Linked DNA regions of Homo sapiens. The protein of the gene in region 1 interacts with the protein of each later gene in a biochemical or structural test. Each region holds a gene or a part of one and is shown in the gene's direction. Other genes may lie near its edges.

Region 1 (5,106 bases):
CCTGTCTCAAAAAAGAAAAGAAACAGAGGCATAATAAAGCTGAGACCATTAAAATATAACACTGAAGAACCACAAGTGTTCTTTAGGTGCCCATTCTGGCACCTGGGCCTCCGTCCCAAGGAGGCTACATACCATAGGAGGCAGCCCTGAAATCACAACCTCCCTCCCCAGTAACGGAGGATGTGGGCACACAAGGAGGGAGGGGAGTGTCCTTTACACCAGGCAGAAGAGTATGATCCTGGCAGAGGAAGCAGCAAGGACAAAGGCAGGAGAGTGGATGTGTGAAGAAGACCAGGAGTCTAGCAGACAGTTCCTGTTAGGGAGAGTCATTTTTGGAGGAAACTGTCTCAAATAGCACAGCCCTTGAACACCAGAAAAAGAAATGAGGGCAGTGGGCACAGAGAAGGGAGGCAGCCATAGAAATGCATGGGGAGGGCCAAGGCTGGTGGTTCATACCTGTAATCCCAGCACTTTGGGAGGCTGAGGCAGGTGGATCACTTGAGGTCAGGGGTTCGTGACCAGCCTGGTCAACATGGTGAAACCCCGTCTCTACCAAGAAATGCAAAAATTAGCCAGGTTGGTGGTACACACCTGTAGTCCCAGCTACTTGGGAGAATCACTTGAGCCTGGGAAGCGGAGGTTGCAGTGAGCAGAGATCATGCCACTGGACTCCAGCCTGGGTGACAAAGTGAGACTTTGTCTTGAAGAAGAAGAAGAAGGAGAAGGAGAAGAAAGAAGAAGAAAGTAGCAGCAGAAGAAATACATGGGGAATGCACCTGGGAGTGCAGTCTGGAAGCTGGATGGGCTTGAGCCAGCAGAAGGGTGGCTGCAGCTGGATCCTAGGCCTTAGGACTTGGGCTTGACAGATTTGCACTGAGGGTTGGAGGGCAGGTTTGCAGGCTCCGAGGAGCTCAATATCCACAGGCTGAGTCTTGAGAGCCCCTGGAGCCCATGGGCCAGGATGCCCACCCTCGTGGAAACTAAACAGTAAAGTTAACATTGCCCTTGAATCAGCTGGCCAACCTCTCCATTTTGCAGATGAGGAAACTGAGGTCCAGACAGCCGAAGAGTGGTAGTGTCCAGGACACACAACTGGTAAGCGGGCAAGCACAGGCTGTTGCTTAGCCCAGACTCATTTCCCAGGGCCTCATGCATTCGCTTCCTCCGCGATCCTTAAAGCCCTGCGCTCCAGGCATCCCCAGCCCCTCCCTCTGCCTCAGTTTCCCCACTTGGTACCGGGAGGTGGTAGGTTTGGGGTCGAAGGGCCCCTCCTCTTAGAGCTCCAGCGTGCCCTCCCCAGCCAAACACAGAAATCCCGCCCCGTTCAGCCCCAACCCCCGCGGACTCCTCCTTGCCTTCCCCTAAGTCGAGGGTCCCAGGCGGCCCGGTCCGAGCCGGCCGATAGCTTTTGGGAGTGGGGGTGGGAACGGGGGAGGGAGGTGAAGCCTGAGAGTGGGTGTCTGGATTGAGCCCCAGGTCTGGCAGCCTCGAGCCTCCGGGGTTGGGGCTGGGCAAGCTGGAGAGGCCCGGCCAGCAGCTGAATGGGTCGAGACTCGGAGACCCGGACCCGAAGAGACGCTGGGCAGGGAGGGAGCGGGATGTGTGGCTGCAGACCTGGGCGGGGGTCGGGGCTGGCCTAGGGCCGAGAGGAACGACAGGCCTGGGATGGGACTGAGGGCAGGGGACGAGGCGAGGGTGGGGCTGGACGTGGGGGAGGGCGGCAGCAGCCAAGCCGGGCTCGGGGCTGGCAGCCGAGCGGCCTCCCCAGGGACCCCGACCCGGCCCGAACGGGAGCCCAGTGGACTGACAGCGTCGCGGCCGGGGGCGCGCGGGGGTACCGGGCAGCCTCCTCAGGGGATTCGCCCATGATGAAAGAGGGCTCGCTTCTCGGCTCAGGGTCTCTATTCGCCAGCGGGGGCCGGATGATCAAGGGAAAAAAAATTTAAAAGCCCGTGCTTTCCAGAAGAGAATGAAGCGGCGGCGGCGTCCCGGGTTCCCTGCTCGGGTCTCGATGTTACAGCTGCCCCCGCCCCGTCTCCCCAGCACTCACATCCCGCCGCCGTAAGACTCCGGGCCTCGGCCTCTAGCGCAATGTCCCGGGGCGGGGGGCGGAAGGCTCCTCTCGGCCTCTCCACACTCCCGCGTCGGCGGCTGCGGAGGGGGTGGGGGCGGGAGAGGCCCGGGAGGGCGCGGGGGAGGGAAGAGGCGCCCGGCCGGGGAGAAGGGGAGCGGCAGACGCCGAGGCGAGGGATGCGCGCGGCGGGCGGTGGCTCCGAGCGGCGGCCGGGCGGGGGGCGCTGGAGGCCAGGCCGGCCAGCGGGGGGTATCCCGAGAGCTCCATGAAGTCCCCCCGGGGCCGCGGACGGGGCGCTGGCTTGGGGAGGCTGTCGGGGGGGCCCCGACATCCATGGCAAGGCGGGGGCCGCGGCGGCGCGCTCGGAGTAAGTCGGGGCTGGGGACCCGCGCCGAGGGGAAGTGGCCGGAGTCGGGGAGGAGCGACTCCGGGCCTGGCCGGAGCAGCCAGGCTGCTCTGTCTCGGTGTCAGTCGGCGGCGCCTCCTCGGAACCCGGGGGAGTCGCCAGCCCCGCGCCGCTCGGCTCGGTGGCTTTTTTGGAAACTTGCAAATGTTTTCGTAGAGAGAAAAGGGGGAGGGAGGGAGCGAGGGAGTGACCGAAACGGAGCTTGGGGCCGCTGGAAGAACTGAGGCCAAGGCCGGGGGAGCTAGAGACGGACTGACAGACAGGCAGACCGACAGAGCGTCGGGGCCGCTGCGCGCCCGAGCCGCACAGGCGCAAGCGGGGCTCTGGCCAAGGATGGGGAAGGGGTGCGGGAGGCGGCTGCCGAGGGTCTGGGATCTCAGGAGGCCGAACGGCCGGGGGCTGGCGGCCGGAACACCTAAGGGCTCAGTGTGGCTGCAAAGTTGAGATCGCACCCCCTAACTGCACGCCCCGCGCGGCTCAGAACGCGCCCCCTGCCCGGCCCTGACTCCCTACGCCGAAAGTCGCGGAGCTAAAAATAACAGTCCTGCGCGCCCCCCGCAGACCGCGACCCCGACCCCTCCCCCGCCCCCTCCCCCCACTGGGCGTGGGGCGAAGCCACAGCTCCCATTTCCCCAAAAGAAAAAAAAAGAAAGAAAGAAAGAAAGAAAGAAAGAAAAGGCGGCGCGGGAGGGGGGCGGGGGGCGGGCCGGGGGCGGGGGGCCCGGCCATATGGATGTGATTTCTTCGCTCCGAGGCAGACGGGCCGCTCCGCAGCGCTCGGCGCCCGCCCGCCGCCCGCCCGGCCTCCGGCTCTCCCTCCCTCCCTCCTGTCCCTCCCTCCCTCCCTCCTTTGCGCTGCTCGCTCGCTCGCTCGCTCGCTCGCCCTCAGCGCATGGGCCCCGCGCCGGGCCCCGGGGCCTCGGGCCGCCGGGACGCCGGGGTCCCATAGGCCGGGGCGTGGGCGGGGCGGCCAGCCTGACGCAGCTCTGCACCCCCTACCACCACCAGGGCCGGCGGCGGCGGCTGCCCCGAGGGACGCGGCCCTAGGCGGTGGCGATGGGGACCGCCCGGATCGCACCCGGCCTGGCGCTCCTGCTCTGCTGCCCCGTGCTCAGCTCCGCGTACGCGCTGGTGAGTCCCCCGCCGCCAACACTCCGGGACAGGCTGCGGGCTTACCCTAGGGTCCGCGGGATAGGTCTAAGGCACGCAGTCTTGAGTTCCCCCAGTAGTTCGAACTTTGGGTGAGAGTCCCCTCTGATCCAGGATCCTGGGTGCCTGCTGTCTCTGGGATGTCTGGACTGTGGGTTCCAGCTGCCTGAAGCCTCCCTATTTCTGAAGCCTCGTTTGGGGTCCCAAATCTGGCAATTTGTGGTTGAGTTTTCACCATCCTCTGCTTCTGTGAGCACCATGGCTGTTTCTCCCTGGAAGATGACAGTGTGACCCAACAGAAGGCTGGGCTTTGGCCCTGCTGCGTACTCCCACAGACTTTGCTTTGGGGACCTCTGTTTTCTGCAAGTTTTGTTGCAGTCCCGGACACAGGGAATGTAGGTCTGAGGTCAGAATCATCCAGGCAGGGGGTAGGATTTAGGGGCCCCCTCCAGCCCTCACACACACACATGCACACGTCTGGCTTCACCCAGGGTAGAAGCTGTTTCCCCAAGGAGGTGGGTGTGGTGTGGCATGGAGAAGGGATGGAGTTCCCTGAAGGAGACTGACCTCACAGTGCACCCCTGTAGGAGAAGCACAGCATATCCTGTGGGGAAGTGAGGAGACCCCTGGAAAGACTGTCACTCCCTGAGAGTGACCTAAAAGCAGAATGGTAGGGAAGGCTAGAGGGAGAGGAGAGACAGAGACAAAGCCGGGTGGGGAGGAGAGATCCCCCCAGCTGGAGGGGTGGACAGACTAAGAACAGCAAAAAAAATAGGGAGACAGGCAAAGGCAGAAAGCTGGAGACACAGAGTGGGCAGCACCTCCTCCTCCTGGGCCAGGGTCTGGGGCCCACTTGCTGGGAAGGGGGCTGTCCCAGCCCCTCAGTCCTATTCCACAGCAACCCCATCCCCTGGGACGAGCCCGTTCCTGGGGAGGCTGTCTGCCTGTGCGCCTAACTTCAAAGCCTCTTCTCCCTGCTCCCCAGTGGGGGTATCTGCCTGCTAGAGAGCAGGGCAGTCAGGCAGCCTCCTCCTCCTGACCAGCAGCAGCTCCCTACACGGGGCAGAGCTCCAGGCAGTTCCAATGAGCCTGGGATTCCTCCACCTTTGCATGATGCCTGTGTAAGCCTGGGCTGTCCTTCTCCGTGCCTCAGTTGCCCCATCTGTAAAAGAGAGGGCCTGGAAGAAACATCTGCCTGAGAATCCCATCATCAGAGGCTCTCCCTTCCTCTGAGGTCCTCAGCACTTCCCACTTACCTGTGCCTACACCCTCACAATTCTGGCCCCAGCAAAGGCTCCCCACCAAAGACAGCCCCATACAAGGCCTTGTGGATGGGGAAACTGAGGTTCAGAGGAGCTCAACACCCTCTGCAGAGACACTCCAAGTACTGACGAATGCCAGGGGATAGAACTACCACCAACCCCACCCCCGGAGTTTGGTGTGTGACGGCCTGAGGGGTAGACAGGGTGATGGGTGT
Region 2 (3,500 bases), on another chromosome or scaffold:
TGAGTAGGGCTGAGCAAATGCGGCAAAATCAATGCACATATGACAAGATTCAGTGGCCCAAAGAAGGGAGCTAAATGAGGAATCAAAGCAAATACCCCATATGGAATTGCTGTAAAAAATCAGAGAAAACCTGAAAGTAGTGGTTTTCAAGCATGACCCACTAGTGGATTGAAAATCAACTTAGCGGGTTGGAACCAACTTCCTTTTTCTAAAACAAAAAAAGAATAGCATACATCAGATTGCATCAGGTTCTTAGCAAAATCATATTTTATATTATCTTTTTCATACCAAAGATATTTTATATTATTTTTATTATACCGTAGTAAAGGTATTGTTTCATGAAAGTTTTTAGTTATATATATTTATTTATTTATGTATACATATAAATCTTATGTGTATGTGATCCATGTACTATGATGTAAAATGTAAATTATTATGGTAAGTCAAGATTTTTTTAATTTTTAAAATTCTTTAAAAATTATTTTTATTTATTTATCTATTTATTTTTTGAAACAGGGTCTCACTCTGTTGCCCAGGCTGGAGTTCAGCAGTGCAATCCCGGCTCACTGCAGCCTTGACTCCGTGAGCTCAGGTGATTCTCCCCCTTCAGCCTCCCGAGTAGCTGGGACTACAGGCACACGCCACCACACCTGGATAATTTTTTGTATTTTTATTAGAGATGGGGTTTTGCCATGTTGGCCAGGCTGGTCTCAAACTCTTGAGCTCGAGTGATCTGCTCGCCTCAACCTCCCAAAGTGCTGGAATTAAAGTCGTGAGCCACCATGCCTAGCCTAGGTCAAGATTTTAAAAGTTTCATAAATAGTCCTGTAGAACACTGGGTGGAGTTTGGAATGGTGAAAATGTGTCAGGAGAGTATTGTAACTGAAATATTCCTGATCTTCTCTTTCAAAAAGATGGCCTTCTTCCCATTATCCAAGGCAAGGATTTCAGGCCTGAGTCAGCCATAAGCTCATCTGTCTTTTTTTCTGTACTTACCTCCTCATAAATGGATTAAGAGAGCCTCGAGCAATGGTGAGGGTTGGAGAAGGTGGACAGGTGGCCCAGTCTTATGCGCTTTCCCTCTCTTCCTTCCTTCTCCTCATCCTCCAAGGATGGTTGTAGCCAACTCCAGCCAAAGTGCAGATGCCAGAGAATCCTGCAGCAGTTGCTGAGAACACAGGATACCTGTCACATTTACTGAAGCAGTGGCAGGACAATGCATCCCCTGCATTGAGCTAGTTGTCAGAAGCAGAAAATAAAAAGTGTGTGTGTGTCTCTGTGTGTGTGTGTGTGTATGTGTGGTGAAAAAGAGAAATATATCTAAAAATAATCTTAAAAGACATGATATGTAATTTCTTACCAAAACTCAAGCCAAAGCAATCACACATACACCCACACACATGCACGCACACACCCCCATCCACACACACACACACAGAAGTAAATGACAGCAGTTGGACCATCAAAATCTGAAAAATTCTTTCAGGCCAAAGACTCCATAATGCTCTATAGCTGTTATTTTGCATTTCTTTGAATCTCCTCTCAGTTCTATTTAGAGATCACGAAATGTCTAATTTAATGGCCCTGCCCTTAGTTCTCCAGGAAGGAGATCTTAGTTGTTCATCCACGAACAACTTTTTGAGCCACTTTCCTACTTCTATTTCTTCCAGTAGGCAGATCATATTTTGGGTTTCTTTGTTTTAAGTTTGTGGTTTTTGTTTTTCCCTCTTTTTCTTTTTAGGTTGTAGTTAAGTGGTGTATACAAATTTATTAGCAATTTATTATATTGCCACTTTGTATTTTAATCTTTAATATTAAATTTTGTGTTTGGTAAAAATGCTGTAATTAGTAAAATGTAGAGTAATCAGTTTTTACCCATTCTCTGCTCTTCAATAACAGCTTGTTGAGTATTCTCTCTGATTTATTCTAGCATCAGACACACACACGCGCACACACTGTGCTGCAGCATGTTTTGTTTTCCAATTCTATGTAGCACAAAAAGACTTAACCTCATTCTTCTCCATATCTCAACAGTATTCCATGTATCTTGATGATCACTTACAATATAAGGCAAGTAAGCATAGGCAATTCATCAGATTTGAACCAGAGATGGGGTTACTAAGTGAACTATTAGTTCCCCAGAAGAATTAGCCCAAGCAAAGGTGTTGTACAGTATGTAAAATGTCTTTTCCTACTTTATACATTTTATCTGGCCAGAGAACACCTTTAAACATTAAATGCAATCATCCTTAGTCATTCAACAAATATTTACTGAGCAATTGATAGAGGCCATTCGCCAAGCTAGGCCTCATGGATCAACTCGAAATATGACAGACAGACTCTGCCCTCAGGGAGCTTAGAGTTCAGTAGACATGACCAGTGGTGACACAAGCCACTGGAGTAGCATCAGATGAGTGCTTTGGTAGTGGAAGAACCTGTTCTCAGAGCACAGACAGCTTTGGGGGTCTGTATTGGTTTGTGGTTTCATTTTAAAGAAGTGTTATCCAAAAATAGGGTTTGAAGAGTGATGAAAATTTAGCATCATCAAGGACTATAGAAAATTTGGAAGGCATATCTCCTAATGCTATCCCTCCCCCCTCCCTACACCCACAACAGTCCCCAGTGTGTGATGTTCCCCTTCCTGTGTCCATGTGTTCTCATTGTTCAATTCCACCTATGAGTGAGAACATGCAGTGTTTGGTTTTTTGTCCTTGCAATAGTTTGCTGAGAATGATGGTTTCCAGTTTCATCCATGTCCCTACAAAGGACATGAACTCATCATTTTTTATGGCTGCATAGTATTCCATGGTGTATATGTGCCACATTTTCTTAATCCAGTCTATCATTGTTGGACATTTAGGTTGGTTCCAAGTCTTTGCTATTGTGAATAGTGCCCCAATAAACATACGTGTGCATGTGTCTTTATAGCAGCATGATTTATAATCTTTTGGGTATATACCCAGTAATGGGATGGCTGGGTCAAATGGTATTCCTAGTTCTAGATCCCTGAGGAATCGCCACACTGACTTCCACAATGGTTGAACTAGTTTACAGTCCCACCAACAGTGTAAAAGTGTTCCTATTTCTCCACATCCTCTCCAGCACCTGTTGTTTCCTGACTTTTTAATGATCACCATTCTAACTGGTGTGAGATGATATCTCATTGTGGTTTTGATTTGCATTTCTCTGATGGCCAGTGATGATGAGCACTTTTTCATGTGTCTGTTGGCTGCGTAAATGTCTTCTTTTGAGAAGTGTCTGTTCATATCCTTCACCCACTTTTTGATGGGGTTGTTTTTTTCTTGTAAATTTGTTTGAGTTCATTGTAGATTCTGGATATTAGCCCTTTGTCAGATGAGTAGGTTGCAAAAATTTTCTCCCATTCTGTCAGTTGCCTGTTCACTCTGATGGTAGTTTCTTTTGCTGTGCAGAAGCTCTTTAGTTTAATTAGATCCCATTGGTCAATTTTGTCTTTTGTTGCCATTGCTTTTGGTGTTTTA

What was found. The genes of interacting proteins can lie anywhere in the genome.
Region 2: the proteins of PTH1R (region 1) and IL16 interact in a test that uses a peptide from one of them, tested with the Homo sapiens proteins (one large-scale study listed by IntAct).

Annotation. Positions count from the first base shown.
Region 1 is NC_000003.12:46,880,024-46,885,129, forward strand, and holds part of PTH1R (parathyroid hormone/parathyroid hormone-related peptide receptor precursor), read left to right. Parts: intron 1-1,038; coding exon of another isoform or gene 1,039-1,095; intron 1,096-1,971; exon of another isoform or gene 1,972-2,159; intron 2,160-2,225; exon of another isoform or gene 2,226-2,441; intron 2,442-3,488; 5' UTR 3,489-3,536; coding exon 3,537-3,611; intron 3,612-5,106.
Region 2 is NC_000015.10:81,199,879-81,203,378, forward strand, and holds part of IL16 (pro-interleukin-16), read left to right. Parts: intron 1-522; exon of another isoform or gene 523-592; intron 593-3,500. UniProt on the Homo sapiens protein: Interleukin-16 stimulates a migratory response in CD4+ lymphocytes, monocytes, and eosinophils. Primes CD4+ T-cells for IL-2 and IL-15 responsiveness. Also induces T-lymphocyte expression of interleukin 2 receptor. Ligand for CD4.